Linked DNA regions of Homo sapiens: region 2 is linked to region 1. The links come from fine-mapping of genetic effects on gene expression. Tissue or cell type: whole blood. Region 1 holds a variant in brackets; the other region holds the start of a gene. All regions are shown on one strand. Distances are between the middles of the regions.

The links. PIP is the estimated chance that this variant, and not a neighbour inherited with it, causes the effect.
Region 2: DOCK10 starts here. The variant in region 1 is fine-mapped to the expression of DOCK10 in whole blood (INTERVAL, PIP above 0.99).

The regions. Positions count from the first base shown.
Region 1 is chr2:224,919,039-224,927,038 of GRCh38, forward strand. All of the region lies in intron 2 of DOCK10 (dedicator of cytokinesis 10), which reads right to left. Among named protein-coding and RNA genes, the nearest start is that of MIR4439, 88 kb to the right of the region's middle. The variant C/A (reference allele first, on the strand shown) is at 3,299.
Region 2 is chr2:225,038,502-225,046,501 of GRCh38, forward strand. DOCK10 (dedicator of cytokinesis 10) reads right to left here and starts at 3,967. Exons shown (of 56, transcript NM_014689.3): 1 at 3,751-3,967. The coding sequence starts at 3,873. RefSeq lists an enhancer at 2,674-3,013 and silencers at 3,564-3,803, 3,994-4,363.

The DNA of each region.
Region 1 (8,000 bases):
GTGTATGTGTGGTCTGTGTGGTGTATGTGTGGTGTGTGTGTGTGGGGAGTGTGTGTATGTATGTGTGGTGAGTTTATGTGTATGTGTGGCACGTATATGTGTGGTGTGTGTATGTGTGGTGTGTGGTGGGTTTGTATGTGTGTGATGTGTATGTGTGGTATGAGGGTGTGTGGTGTGTATGTGTGGTGTGAATGTATGTGGGTGTGTGGTATGTGAATGTGTGTAGGTTTGTCTGCATGTGTATGTCTGTACACATGTGAATGGGTGTGATGTGTCAGTGTGAGTGTGTGGTGTATGTGTGGTATGAGTATGTGTGATGTGTGTCTGTATAGGTGGTGTGAATGTATGTGGTGTGTGTGGTATATGAATGTGTGTAGAGTGTGTCTGCATGTGTAGGTCTGTACACATGTGAATGGGTGTGATGTGTCAGTGTGAGTGTGGATGGTGTGTATGTGTGGTGTGAGTGTGTACGTGTGGTGTGAATGTGTGTGGTGTGTCTGGTATGTGAATGTGTGTGGAGTGTGTCTGCATGTGTATGTGTGTACATGTGTGAATGAATGTGATGTGTCAGTGTGTATGTGTGGTGTGAATGTGTGTGGTGAGTGTTGTGTGTGTGTAGAGTGTGCGTGTGTCTGTCCACGTGTGAATGGGTGTGATGTGTTGGTGTGAGTGTGTGTGCATGTGCACATGCATGTCGGGAAGCACGGGGTTTGTATCCTGTGAAAGAGGAAGAATGCCATGTAGATTTAATAAGATCAGAGGATGAAAAATAATGAGAAAACTAGGATCTAGAGACATCAATGATGAAAATGAATGCTCGCCCTAAAGCACAGCTGTGGACTGAGCTCCCTGGGCCACTGCACTTGCTCCAGGATTTAACTGCAGCTGTATACTCAGAAGAGGCTGTGGCTACCAATTCAAACCAGGCATAGGTGCAGGGAGCAAGCATAGTGCCACGGATGGAACAGGGAGCCGTTGCTTTGCATGCAAAGTAAGATAGAGCCAATTTGGATCTTATTATTTACATTTTACTTTTTGTTGCTGTTGTTGTTGAGACAGGGTCTCATTCTGTTGGCCAGGTTGCAGTGCAGTGGTACAATCACAGCTCACAGCAGCCTCGACCTCCGGGGCTCCAGTGATCAGCCTCCCCAGTAGTTGAGACTACAGGTGCGCACCACTATGCCTGGCTAATTTTCACTTTTTTTTTTTTTTTTTTGTAGAGACAGGGTCTCACCATGTTGTCCAGGATGGTCTCCAGCTCCTGGACTCAAGTGATCTGCCTGTCTCGGCTTCTCAAAGTGCTGGGATTACAGGCATGAGCCACTGTGCCTGGCCTACATTTTACATTTTTAATTCCTTTAGAGTTCCCTTCTTCAAGTTGCTTATTTTATGCTATTCACTCTGTTAGAAGATAAATAGTAAATAAACTATATTGAAGTTTTGGAGTAGAATATTAAGAACCATGCCTAAATTGAGCTTTGGGGATTACTGCTGAATTTAAATGATCTGGGATGCCTTTGTTTCCTATTCGGATGGATAATTTACAGATATATGGTGTTGCTTGGTTTCCAGGGAATATTACATATTATAATCTACTGGGAACATTAGACATTTTTCTTTCTAATTAAAAAAAAATTCTATATTATGGCCATTATTAATAAAATTTTTATACAAAAATGCAAGCTATTCCTCTTTTCCATTTTCCACTAGAGTCTCCATTGCTTTCTTGACTTTTTAAAAAAATACTTTAAGTCTGATGGAGAGTAGAGTAACATGGCCCAGAATTAAGCTTATAATTAAGTAAAACATAAATAATAAGATCCAAATTGGCTCCATCATATTTTGCATGTGACACAACCACTCCCTGTTCCATCTATGTAGTAAACTTACTGTCCCACTACGATCACTGCTCTGTGACATAATAAAATAAAGTGGGCTGGGCACGGTGGCTCATGCCTGTAATCCCAGCCCTTTGGGAGGCTGAGGTGGGCAGACCAATTGAGGTCAAGAGTTTGAGACCAGCCTGGCCAACATGGGAAAACACCGTCTCTATTAAAAAAAAAAAAAAAAAAAAATATATATATATATATATATATAATGTATATACACAAAAAATAGCCGGGCATGGTGGCGGGCACCTGTAATCCCAGCTACTCAGGAGGCTGAGGCAGGAGAATCACTCGAACCTGGGAGGGGGAGGTTGCAATGAACCAAGATCATGCCATTGCACTCCAGCAATGTTGCTGGGCAACAACAGCAAAACTCCATTTCAATAAATAATAATACTAACGTGAACACTTAGCTAATTTAAGAAGTTTTTTGTTTGTTTGCTTGTTTTATTGGTAAGTTTCTGGAATGTAGGCTTGGGTTCCCCATAACAGTAATCACATGGCTACTAGATTAGTAATGTCCTATAGTTAGATAGGCCCCCAAATACATAAGGTAATGTTCACATCCAATTTATGAGACTGCGAATTAATTCAGGCCGAGTTACAAAAATTGCTTAATCACGTGTACAATGCCTGGTGGTCTCTTGTTATAAAATGATGTTGACTTTTTACTAAATAAGACAACAGGCTGAATTATGCTCTTGGAACCATGTGATAAATCTAAAACATTATTTTACAATATGTGCAGTTATTGCATATCTAATATCCTGTGCAGGTTACACAAGGTATAGGAAAGAGAATACATGTATGATGTATGCCCATAACGTGCTATTGATCTTAGTTGTATTTTATTATAATGCTGGAGCATTTGTCTGAAAAAGTGCAAGGACAGCCAGGCGCTGTGGCTCATGCCTATAATCCCAGCGCTTTGGGAGGCTGAGGCGGGTGGATCACCTGAGGTTGGGAGTGTGAGACCAGCCTGACCAACACGAAGAAACCCCGTCTCTACTAAAAATAAAAATAAAATAAAATAAAATAAAAATTAGCTGGGCATGGTGGCACATGCCTGCAATCCCAGCTACTCGAGAGGCTGAGGCAGGAGAATCGCTTGAACCCGGGTGGCGGAGGTTGCGGTGAGTCGAGATGGCGCCACTGTACTCCAGCCCGGGCAGCAAGAGCAAAACTCCATCTCAAAAAAAAAAAAAAAAAAAAAAAAGTGCAAGGACTCCACAAGTTTCCACTTTAAAAACTGTGGCACTTCTTCTCATTTTAGATCTCTTTAATGTGTCTCCACTGAAGCAAAAATGAATTGATCGAATACAAAGAAAACTGTAAACAATCATATTTGGTAAGGGTTTTAATATGGTTACAAAGAATTTTTTCTTTTCTGAGAATCAGATGCTTTCAGA[C/A]CACTACAAATTGTCTTGACCACAAGAGATTTCCTGTTCTCTTTTATAAAACTCTGGTCAACAATTAGTATAGCTCAATAGCATAAAAGGGATCTGAAACTGCAGTGGAACTCAGCTGAGCTTCTCCTTTGGTGGTAGGATTTCATAAGGAGCCTATCTATTGTCCAGAGATCAGGCATTTGGAAATAAAAACTGTCCTGAAATGATGCATGCAGGCCTGTGTTTATAGTTTCAGGTCCATGAGATTCAGACATCCTCCCTTGCAGCCCTGTCACTTTCTGGTTTCTTGTAGCCTGCAGTGGATGGTCTTGGAGGTTTCGTTACAGCCACCAATCTGCTGGCTATACTGGCTACAGAAGACTTCCTTCCAAGCACATCAGGACTATCTCTCAATTGGCCAAAGGTCACTGTAAAAGTCTAAAAAAGGGCTGCTTATCCTATCTTGGGGCTGAGAAAAGCTTCCTCTGACAGTATTGTAGCTTCCCCCTGTTCAAAAAGGAGGACAAAATGATGGTGTTTAAAGTAATCAATCAGTCTAAGCTTGGGGAGTTATAAGCCTCACAATAAGAACTATTAACTAAAACTTTGTGATTAATGACCCTCAGCATGTGTTTAAAAGTGATTTTAACCTAAATTTCTCAGACATCGATATTGTCTTTTATTCTATTAGAGAATGTCCTTAGATTACATTAGTTTCTTGAAAAACATCTTTTACCACATTCAGAAGAGTATTGTTGTGATTTTATTTTACTTATTGTTTAAATATATGAGAATATTACTTTAGTACCTGACTTGTGCTTTAAAGGGAAGGCCCTTCTTGTTTTGCTGGGGTTGAACTGTATGGCAAATATACAAATAATGAACAGTTGTCTATTACTTGATAGCAGTCATTCCAGCCAAGTTAAGCATGAAGACACAGTGTTGTAGTATTTAGGTATATAGTAGTGATAGAATCCTATAAGAAGAACTTCAAGGTGTTTTACTCTTGGATTGACAAACTACTGAGCCAGTCATTTCACTTCTTTTTTGTGACTTATTTTCCAGGCTCCAAAACATGTCTCATCTCCTCTAAAGAGGTGAGGACCAAACATTCTACATATGGGAAGATGTGAGCATTAATAGAAACGAGGTGCTCCAACAATATAAAGACACCTACTGCACCAGGACCTCCCCCTGGCAAAGACTCTGAGGTCTGTGGTCTGAGTTTACCATCCAAGAAAGCCCAGTGAAGAGGGTTGCCTGCTGCGAGGCCTGCAGACATGGTCTAGGGAAGAGAAATGGACTGAAGAGCGGCCCAGCACTGCCAGCTCTCACCGGCTCCATCCCACCTGGCTGCCCGCATTTCTCCTTCAGGGCCAGCCTCATTCCTGCACAGGGCCTTTGCCCATGCTCCTCTGCCTCTCCAAAAGTCTTTTTCTTTCCTCATTCTTTAGAAATCTCAGGTTTTGTATAGGTGCCAGCTCCTTTTCAAAAGCTTTCTAATTCATCCAACACACATTTTTCTTCCCTGAATGCTGTTATTTACTCTCTGTAGCACACATGAAGTCTGCAGCTTACCCATAGAATATTTTAGGCCGAAAGGTTATGCTGCTGATGAATTCAGCCGGTCATTTTACCTGTGTGTTTTATTGTTTATAAGCAAGCCACATTACATCTGCTTTGGGGGTAAAATATAACAACTGTAAAATAAGTTTTGCCATGTTCCTTATTACTCCTTTGCTATGTTCCATTCATTCCTTTTAAAGAATAAAGTGCTCGTATCTACATATATGCTTTCATGATTCCTTTGTATCCTTCCTGTGATCACGTGCACCACCTCTATCCTAACACATAGAATGGCTTTTTAAAAAAACCATCTAATTGAGATATAACTGATCTGTCATAAAATTTATCCTTTAAAAGTATAGAATTGAGTGGTTTTTGGTATATTCACAGAGTTGTGCAACCATTACCACGATTTAATTACAGAACATTTTCATCATGCCCAAAAGAAACCCCATATCCACTAGCATTCTCTTCTCATTTTCCCATCTCCCCAGCCCATGGCAACCACTAATCTCCTTTCTCTCTCTATGGATTTGCCTATTTTGAACATTTCCTATACGTGGACTATATGGTCTTTTGGGACTGGCTTCTTTCACTTAATACAATATATTCAAGGTTGATCTAAATTGCAGCATGTATCAACATTTCATTCCTTTTTATGGCTGAATAATAATGACATTCCATTTTATGGATATACCACATTCTGTTTACCCATTCATCAGTTGATAGATTATTTGGGTTATTCTCATTTTGGGGCTATTATGAATAATGCTTCTATGAACATTTGTGTCCAAGTCTGGTGTGGACATACATTCTTAGCACAATCAAACACAGACCAGGGTCTCCACACACATTCTTACTGAAATGAAATAAACAACCAGAACTGTTTCACTACAGTACTTATTTTCTAATGGCATCACTCACTGTGGGATTCAGGAAGTTAATATTTCCCCCAACTTGTGTGCCTTTTTTTTCTAAGAAGCGTCGGCCAAAAGCATGCTGTTTAGACAGAAACTAATAGTAAAAGTCAAGGTGCTTATGTTAGGTGTTTGTCCTTCCAGTTGCTCTATTTCCTTGAACAACAGCCTTTCCAAATCTTAACTTCATTAGCTTGTAAATGAGAGGAATATTATAACATAGAAAGAATCTAATTCGACAAAGACTATTACTCAGTTTTCAAATTGAAATTACAATGTTCTTACATGAACACCAGGAGCCGTTTAAAAGCCTGCTTTTCAGGCTCAAAAGCCACAGATTTAAAAGAGGTTGAGATTCTTATAAAATGTTAACCTTTGTCTCAGAAAAAAAAAAAGAAAGAAAACTCATGACCTTACTGATTTGCAGTTTAAAACATATTCAAATCTTTCTGCTTCCTTTCCTAGAATGACCCTTGTGGTTGAGTCTAGAAGTCCCCATATACCATTTGCTTTTCATTGCTAAAGACATACTATGAAAAGAACAAGCCATTGGTATATTATGATATCCACTATTCTGAGTTTTAATAGCCAGTGAAAAGTGCAGAATGCCTTTGAGTACCCTGGGACACAATTCTGACCTACTAATATGAAGATGGAATTTGAGAAGATAATGAGACTCTTAGGTGACTGTAGTCATGTGACATAGACTTTTGACTTTGAAAATTGCACTGCCCGGTGTTGAAAGTCTAACTGTTCAAGTGTAAGGTCTGCTTCTTATTCGTATTGGTGTCCTGGATATAAACAGCTTAGATCACCAAAGGTGGTCCATGAAGGTAAATTGAAATAGAGTTTTACTGGTGTGGACAAAATTGAAGTATAGTTGATAGGTGGTCTTCCTACACAGTGTACAGTCTTACCAGCTTTCAGACATCAGAACTTTCTTATTTATGGTTTTGTACTTCCCAGAAATGATCCCATCTCAGGCTTTCTACATCTTTTGCTCAGGAAGAAACTCATTTCTGACTTTCTCAACTTTTTTTCTGCTATTTTGCATCAGTCTTTTCTTAAACTGAATCATTTGACAATATGATTCAATGTGTCCTTGAAACCATTTTTCTTAGCCCTTGCTTTCTTTTCTTACTTTCTTTGCCACTTTACTGAGTCACACACTTTGGTGACTAAGTTCTTTATTTTTTGTTTTGTTTTAAAGTTTCTATTACTACCAGCTTGAAAAAGAAAGATGAAAAAAAGTAGCAAATACAATTATTGAAGCAGTACAAGTTTTTGCAATGAATGGCTTAATAAATACATCAATACTGCTTATTTTAGTGAATCATTAGGACACATGTAGTGCAGGAGTTCATACTGCTTAGTCCCAGAACCCACATACAAGGAGGACTAGCTTCTACCTGGTGTGCCAAAATAAAGGAAAGTGCTTCTGTGTCAGGCCCTCAACCTGGAAGAAAACTATTTTAATTCAATGTTTGATAATCTATTGAATGCCTATGAATCAGACATTGTGTTGGGTACTTGAAGTACAGATATGAACTGATTTGTCCCTTGTCTAGTAACAGAAAGGAAGTGAATGAGTAAGTGAAGAAGTACACTAAAGTGTTAGAGGGCTGGGTGCAGTGGCTCACGCCTGTAATCCCAGCACTTTGAGAGGCCAAGTTTGAGGCTGCAGTGACTTCCCACTACACTCCAGCCTGGATAACAGAGCGAGACTCCATCTCTTTAAAAAAAAGTGTTAAAAGGAGGAAACTAAGCTTTGCTGATATCAGCTATGAGCCAGGCACTATGTTAGAAGGAATGGGCCTCTTTAAAAAGGGAAACGTGTTCTTAGTGCTGTTTTTTAAGGTGATATGTTGAGTTGAGTTGTGCCAAAGCAGGAAGTATTTTCCTTACCATCAAGCAAAGCCAATTACTTCATCCTCTTTGTTCTCAAGAATTTTGTTTCAGAAAAGCCTTTTGGTTCCTCAAGGTACTCAAGGGATCAACATTATGTTATAAAATAGCAATCTAGATGTTTCTGAAAGATAATTCATGAAATAAATATTTATTTTCCATCTGCTTTGTGCCAAGTTCTGCTTTAGCTGCTGAAAATCTTTCAACAATCAAGACAGAAGAAGTCTCTGTCCTGCTAGAGGCTACTGTCTAACAGTGAGAAACAAGTGACAGAGGAGTGAAAAAGCAAACCAAGATATTTCCCAGTGGTGATAAGTGTTATCAAGAGAAGCAGG
Region 2 (8,000 bases), 120 kb after region 1:
AAGAAGGGAAATGGAATTTACTGAAATAAATACTTTCCCCTCTTTACCCCTTACACTTTCTGGGTGGGTAGGAAGGGAGAAAACCTCCTGGTTAAGTATAATCACTTCCGGCAGGATGCTTTCTCTTTAAAATGAGTTAATAACAAAATTAGATACAATTAAAAAGGAGTTGCAAAGGAGTTTTTGTCTAATAATAGAGTAAATATAAAGGCATTAAAAGTGCATGTAACTAAAGTGGTAAGCTCCAGTCTAGGAAATAGATGAACGGCTTTGGGCTAAAACTGACCAAATGATTATTTGATCTCTAGTAAATGCTTCCTTTCCATCATCTGACTCTATGTAGATCTCATCCTTCTGGTTATCTGAAGCCTTCCATTGCACTAACCCACCTAAAACATTCCATAAATAAAACTCCATTTCTCTCAAAGTGACAGATCTGATGGGGTGTTTGCAAAAAGTTTACCTATACTTTTTTTAAAAAGTCTTTTCTTTTGAAATGCTCTCAAATACAATATATATGCAGAAAAGTGCACAAATCCTAAATGTATATCTTAATGAATTATAGAAAGCTATCTAAATGAACTAATTCATGCTAGGGTACAGATACACTTCATTCATTTTAAAAGATGAGCTTCTTATCAAAAAGGAATTTCTAATTAGTGGCATTACAACTTTGAAGCCAACATGGTATGTATATTCAACCAATGTAATAAAACACTCCAGTTCTGATATGAGACAAATGTTTCTAATCATTTTCGGGCTGAAATTCTACCCTAGAGAAGCTTGCTTTATGAAACAATCAGGAATGAGATTTCAGGAAATTATGAGAACTTGACATGATCCTTTGAATTGATCTTCGAATGAGTTGTCTTTCATTTATTTTCTATGGGGAATTTTAGGATAATGAAGGAGCAAATATTTCTCCTTTTGAAATGTATGTTTTTGTTCATTACTGTTCTTGGGAGGGGTGAAGAATAAGGTGGTTCGTGTCTAGGAGTCTGCAAGTACATAAGCCTACTACATACAGTGCTTTGGGTAAAAACTGACATCAAATTTGCTTTGGCATACACCTGTATTGTCCTCAACAACTGCCTTAAAATTTGGCTTTCCCAGTCATTACCCTCACTCAGCATCTCCTTGATCTCTCCTCTCCATATTCAAACACATTTTGAAGGCTTCCTGTCTTCTCTCTCTCTCTCTCTCTCTCTCTCTGTATACACACCCCATTCTCAGGGAAGAAAACTATCTTGTTAACCTGACAACCTTACCTAAACTTATTGGAGAGAGCAGAATTCAAACCCTATGGCAATCTTTTGGCAATGTCCTGGAGGATTTGTGTCCCCAAGACAGGGATTTCAGAAAGGGGAATATACAAATCTAGCAGTAAGATACTTTTTCTCAGCAGGAGTTTCTAGTCTCTTTCAAATACCTTGCAATAGAGGATGGCTTGCTCCAATACACACCCGCGGTTCTATGAGTCTGTACTGAAGTCGGATATCCATAATATTTTCCCCAACATCCTATCATTTTTCTCCCTTGACAACCATGTTTTGAGAACTTGAAGCAACAGATATGAAGAGTCTTAAGGGATTGCATCAATGTACGCTAAGATTAGTCTCTACCACATAGTCCAATGACACGGTTTTAGGTTCAGAAGGGATGCTCTACACCCACAGAATCCCACCGAGTTCAGGTGCCAGCTCAGAGAACTCATCACCTTCCTGTTTCCCTTCAAGAGTTAACTGATGGGATAGTATGCAAAGCACATGCGTTCTTGCTGCCAAAATAGCAGCCAAAACTGCCTGCCTAGATGTGTAAGATCCCATGAAATGTCTTGGCAAAAGCTAGTTTAGGAGTGTTGGCCAAGGTGCTGAAGCGAAGCAAGGGGAGTCAGGACCACCTTTGCCACTGAATCTCCCCTCCCCCACCTCTTTTTAAAGACAGCGAGCTTATTCATTTTGACAAGATACCCTAGGATTTCAAATCTGACATAATTTTGGAGAAAGCAGTGCGTGTGTGTGTGTGTGTGTGTGTGTGTGTGTGTGGTGTAGAAGGGTATCTGGGATACATAATCTTTATAGAAATTCTAGTGCCACAAAAATTCTAGGAGGATCTACATTTAAAAAAACACACAACAGTTTAAGCTGTTTATTCCAATTGAACGCTGTGTGTTTCCATCAGATCCTCAGTGAGATTCAGTCCAATGAGTCAATTGCAAAATAAAGTTTTTGTCAAGGGAATGGCAGAAAATGACAAAACCACAATTCTGAATGATCATTCAAAAGTAAAAAGTACTTTCTACTACTGTGTGGAGATTTTCTTATCTCTACTTTTACTCGAATTGAATCTTTTCTTCTAATGTTCTTTTGAACAGTTTGTCTTTGGTGTCCTGAAAATGTGCACGCTGATAGCAGTACCACATGCTGTCCCTGGCACAGAGTGAGCTAACAGTTGAACCACCTCTGGGTAACTGCGGACTGCAGCTAGTGTAAGTGCAAGAGAAGGCACCCTGGCCACCAATTCGTTTCACACTCCAATCACCCCCGCCCGCTCTACACCCCCTGGGCACCCGATGCCTCTTCCCTCTGCCAGGCAATTTGCTTCCGTTCTGTTCAACTTTCCGACCTCTGGCTTTAGAGAATAGTCCTGGCTGTGGGAACTGGCTCTGGGAAGCTTTTGGCGCCCTCCTCATTGGTGACTGGCAAGAGTAACACTTTCACACTCTTAAAAAGAGCCGTTTAGTTCCTAATGATATTTTCTGGCAAAAAAGAAAATGAAACACACAACCCGGATTCCGGTCCACCAAACGCAGGCCAAGAGCGCGGCTGCTGAGCCCCGGTCTTGCTGTGAGGCTGTTGTTCCCACTCGCTTCCCGTTTCCACTAGAGTTGATTTGTCTCTTGCCACCTCTCCCCGGCAGTGTGGACCTACTGCAACGCAGGAACATCTGGGTTGGTATGGATAGGATCCTAGCATCAGATGCTGGCTGCTGCCCCAGGGACTTCCCGCGGAAATCACCCAGCACTTAGAAGCCGTTTCAATAAGGAAGTAACCAGTAAAGCATTGCTGGTGGGAGAACCCCGCGAAACATCTTAGAAAAATATCAGAAACCGCTGGAGACCTAATGACCCACGTCTCCTCCAGCCTGTGTTCCTCAGCCCTTTCTGGAGGAGTATTAAGTGGTTTGTGGGTTTTTACCCTGCGGTGGGAGGGCTGTTCCAAGTACATCTATTTCTGCGATAGTTAACGTCGGGGGGCCCCAGCTCTAACCAGGGCGAGGACCACGGACTGCATCCCTCTCTCTCAGCGCACTGGTCTGTTTACTGGAGGGTGAGAGGGACGCGCAGACCTCCGGACTCAGGGGTTCTGTTCTGTAGATCCCCCCACCCCACCCGGGGTCTCTGGCACTCGTATCACTTAGCACCAGTGTGACTGGCGGTGCATTCCGGCCCCCTCGCGCCCCATTAAAGCCCCTGCACATCCTCTCCCACGCTGCGCTTCTGCTACCCACGCAGCTGCTCCTCTGAGCGTCCCGCGTGCACAAACGCGCCCCCGGTCCTTACGCGTCGGTGGCGCTGCCTCGCTGAGGTGGCGCCGGGGGAGCCCGCAGAGGCGGCGGGGGAGGGAGTGCGGAGGAGAGGACCCGTGAGCTGCGGGGACCTGGGCCCGCCGAGCTTTTGGGGAAGCTGGGCTCCGTTCCCCCCGGGCGCCTGGGGCGCGCGGGAAGGCGCGGAGGACGCGCCGCACTCACCCGCTGCTGCTGCCGGCTGCTGACTGCCACCGCGGCGGCGGACGCGGCGCTGTGCCGGAGCTCGGCCGCCTGCCCAGGTCTCAACAGGCTCCGGGTGAACCTGCGGGTCCGCTCACCGGCCATCGCCGGTCACGCCAATCGCGCCGCGGGCCCGGGGCGCGCCTCCCGCCGGTCTTCCCCGCGCCAACCTTCTCTATCCACCCGCCGTTCAGGAAGCGGAACTCGGAGCCTTCCCCCCCCTCTTCCTCGCTCAACTCGCAAGAGGCGGGTTTTTCTCTCTTGCACCCCCACTCTTCCCACCCCCTTCCCTCCTCTGAAGCTTCTCGAAGACTTTCCAAACTCTGCGCTCCCCCGGGCGCGCGCGGCCAACTCGGCTGGCGGCCGGGCCCTGCAGCGGCGCATCTGGAGCGGGCGTCGCGGGACGCGTGTGGGGCGGCTCCTGCCCGCGCCGCCCACACGGGCTCAGCTGGCCGGCCGGGGCTGTCCACGCCGCCCGGGGGAACTGCAGGCTGCGGGGGAGGGCGGGGGGCGGCCGCCGAGGGGCTCCGGGCGGGGCCTGTCCAAGGCCGTCGCCTGTCCAAGGCCGTCAGCCTCATTTGGAGGTTGCTGGGAGAGTTGGAGCCCTGGATGCATTTGCCGTTTAGACTTCTATTTTCTGGGTCCGGCTAGTGGGTGGGGGCCAAGCTCGGTTCGCCCTTCCACCCTCGGGAAGGGGTCAGAGGCTTATTAAAGATCTGGTGGCTGGGATCCCAGCAGCATCGCCCAAGCCAGCGTTTGGAAGGCTCCCTTGCCAGAAGTCCATGTTCAGGGCCTTGGAATAAGCTTCCCCATTCATTCACTCCTTCAATGAGTATTTATTAAGCGCCTACTATATGCCAGCTCACACTGTTCTGGAAACTGAGGATACGGAGAGGAACTTAGCAACTACACTTTAAGGCTGTGTAGAGCTGATAGGTTTTTTCGGGGTAGGGGTGGGAGACAGCAAGTAACCAAGCGAACAAATAAACAAATACAGAGAAATCAAGGAGACAGTTTAAGCTACTAACACGAACTCAAAACCAATAAATCAGCGTTCTGGGGGTAAGAGACTTTGGGTGGCATTAGGATGAGTAGGCAAGAACCAACTGGCAGGGTTACTATGTAGGGTGGTCAGGTCGGGGGTGGATTTCACAGTTATGCTGTCTCTGCTCTTCTCTTGCCCATACCCATCTAGCCTGCACTTTGCCTCTAGATAGGTATCTGATGAAAGCCTTCTAAGAAGTCTCTTCCTGGGTCATACCCAGGGTGGTTCTGCAATTCAGTGTTGGACTGGATGGGGGGCAGAGAAGTTCTGGCCCCTGGATACTGGTCTGGAGAGATCTGGGACAGCCTTTCCAAGTGGTCTGGTTTTTTCTTAACAGCTTTTTATGGATCCATGACCCTGCCACTTTCTAAAGCCAATGATAGATAGTTATAACACAAGGTCACATTTGGGTATAAAGAATTCTTAAGCAATTGATAAATGCACTTTAGTCAGCTCTTTGTTAGCCAGGATTCAATTAGCCAGAGATGCTGTTTGGGGATCATTTCAGCACATTCTAGAAATCATAACAGGCGTAAGAGGGTAAGAGGCTCTGGCAGATTTGGGAAGTGCCATTTGAAACATCATCTAGTTCCAAGACAGCCTGCATAACAAATAACTGTACCTGTATTGTATGCTTTCATATTGGTACTCAGTGTGGGAGCAACACCACCTTTCAGGGTAAGCAAAGTAGGTGGTTGCCTCTGTGTTGGTACATGAAGATCTCTGTAGGAACAGCTCCCTCCAACCGTACCCTTTCCCAGGTGTACCCAGACTTGATGTCTCTGAATGCATATTCCCCTGAGAGAACCGATTAAGCACATTTGAATTAACTTGAGCTTCCCAAGAAGAGGTACCTAATCTTTGTCTCTGGTTTCAAAACACTGCCTGGCACACGTAGGCACTCAATAAATATCAGCTTATGGATGACTTTACAAAGGGCTCAGATGGGCTAGTGCAGTCAGAGAGCTGGGTGTGCCTGACACAGAGAAAGTCAGAGAGGAGAAGAGAAAGGTGTGCTGAAAGGGAAGGCTATAGTAATCGATAATACATCAGAATGTGCCCTGCACAAGGCAACTCGCTGATCCAAAACACTGAGTAGCACACACAACCCAATCTCCAACAATATCGAGTAACAGAAAGTCACTTACAATTTGTTAATCGTACAATTAATACACCTAATTGTACTTTTTCCAGCTTCAGGAGGTCACCCAGAGCACTGGTGTGAGAGGGTTTAACGAACAAATGCCTGTTTGCCCAATCCATACCCTGTATGATGTTAATTCCGTGGGTCACACCGAGTAGGAAGGCAGGTTTAAGTGTTGATAGCATACCTCTCACACCCAGGGCATGTCAATAATGATACTTCAGAGACTCTCCTCCGCCCTTATGATCATGTAGGTTTTAGTTAAGCTTCCTTCGGGCACCAAGGAGAGAGAGCTGAGTGTCGACCCTTGCCCCTGCCCTTGTAGCATAAATACACTTATTTTTTGCTACAGAAATGTAACTTCAGGTCTGCTGATTTGGGACCTTGACTCTGCTGGCCACCCATCTCTCAGATCCCTGGAGAAACTCGGCTCAGATGCTTGGTAAACGCAAATCTGTGCACATATCATGAAGTATGTTAAGTTTCTTGGAACAGCTAGTTAATAAGAGAATCTTCAAGGGCTTGTAATATTGTAGAATAGTGGTTAAAATACATGCTCTGAAGTCCAATTACCTTTGTTCAAATCCCAACTCCGTAAGCCTCAGTTTCTTACCTACGCAATCAAGATAGTAGTTGTGTGGCTGGGCTGCTGAGAGAGTTACTTAAATTAGTGTAAATTTCTTCAAAAGTGACTAGCACATGGACTTCAATAACTGTTATTATCCCTACACTTGCAGATAACTCAGGAATTAAACAAGCTTCCATGTCTTTTCATATATTTGATTCTCATATGAACCCTGTTATTATTCCTACACTTGCAGATAACTCAGGAATTAAACAAACTTCCATGTCTTTTCATATATTTGATTCTCATATGAACCTTTGCGAGAAGAAGGATGGATGGGTATTATCTTGGAGCCAAGGCTGGGGATTTAATGAGCATTCTGGAGACAATGTCTTAACCCAAATCAATGACTATGGAATTTCATGAACAAGAATAACAATAACAATGTAATCCTTATAGTATTAACCCACTATTGTGTAACAATATGTAACTATAACATAATGTGCTACAGTTTGGATAATAGTTTCACATATATTATTTCACTTGAATTTTAATATATTATAAAATGGGGTTGTTCAGCCCATCTATCCCATGTCTCGCTGTCTAAAATTGTAGATGGATCATTAAAAGAGCTCCCCAAATGCATGGAACAGACATTTTAGAAACCAGTGGTTGCAAATTTTGCTAAATGTTCTCAAATCAAGATTGTACTAATACATAGAATGCAGAGGCTGCAATCAAGTTTTATCAGTGTTTGAATTTGCCAATTCATTTGAGTTGTCACGAGACAAGCCATTCACTGAGGAAGAAATAACCCCACTCAACAGACACTTATGGAATATCAACTATGGACAGGATCTCACACTATGCTAGGAGGGCACAGAGCTGAGCAAAATGTTTCTGTCTCCAAAAAGCTCAATTTCATACAGAGGAACTGACTTAAAAAACATTACTGGTGCTCATGGGTGAGTGGGTAGGGGGTGAGAGTAAGATTTTGGAGATGGAGCGTCTATGGACCCATGTTAACATTTTATACTTCATATTTTTATGACTTTTTAAATAAGATTGAAAAAATTGGTCTCAATAACATGGAATTTTCTAGCCTTCTCTTTCTCTTCCCCTCTTTACTTACCTCCTTTTCTCTCTTCTTCTTTCTTCCTTTCTCTCTTTGTCCTTTTCTTTCCTTCCCTCACTGCTTCCTCCCTTCCTTCCCTTCTTCCTTCTTTAAAATTTGATACTCTTCTTATTCATACTAAAGCATCACTTACTTTCATAAGATGTAGTAAGCACTGATTACTTGACCTGGTACAATTCAAAGCTTTATAGAATTAAGAAACCACAACTGTCAATAGCCCTCTCCTGTCATCCTTCTACATGACTGTGTCCATGTCTTATCAGCAAGGAAAGACTTCAGAAATTTTTTCATAGCAGTAATAAGTATAAATGTGAAAACTGTACTATATTTTCCAAAATACCTA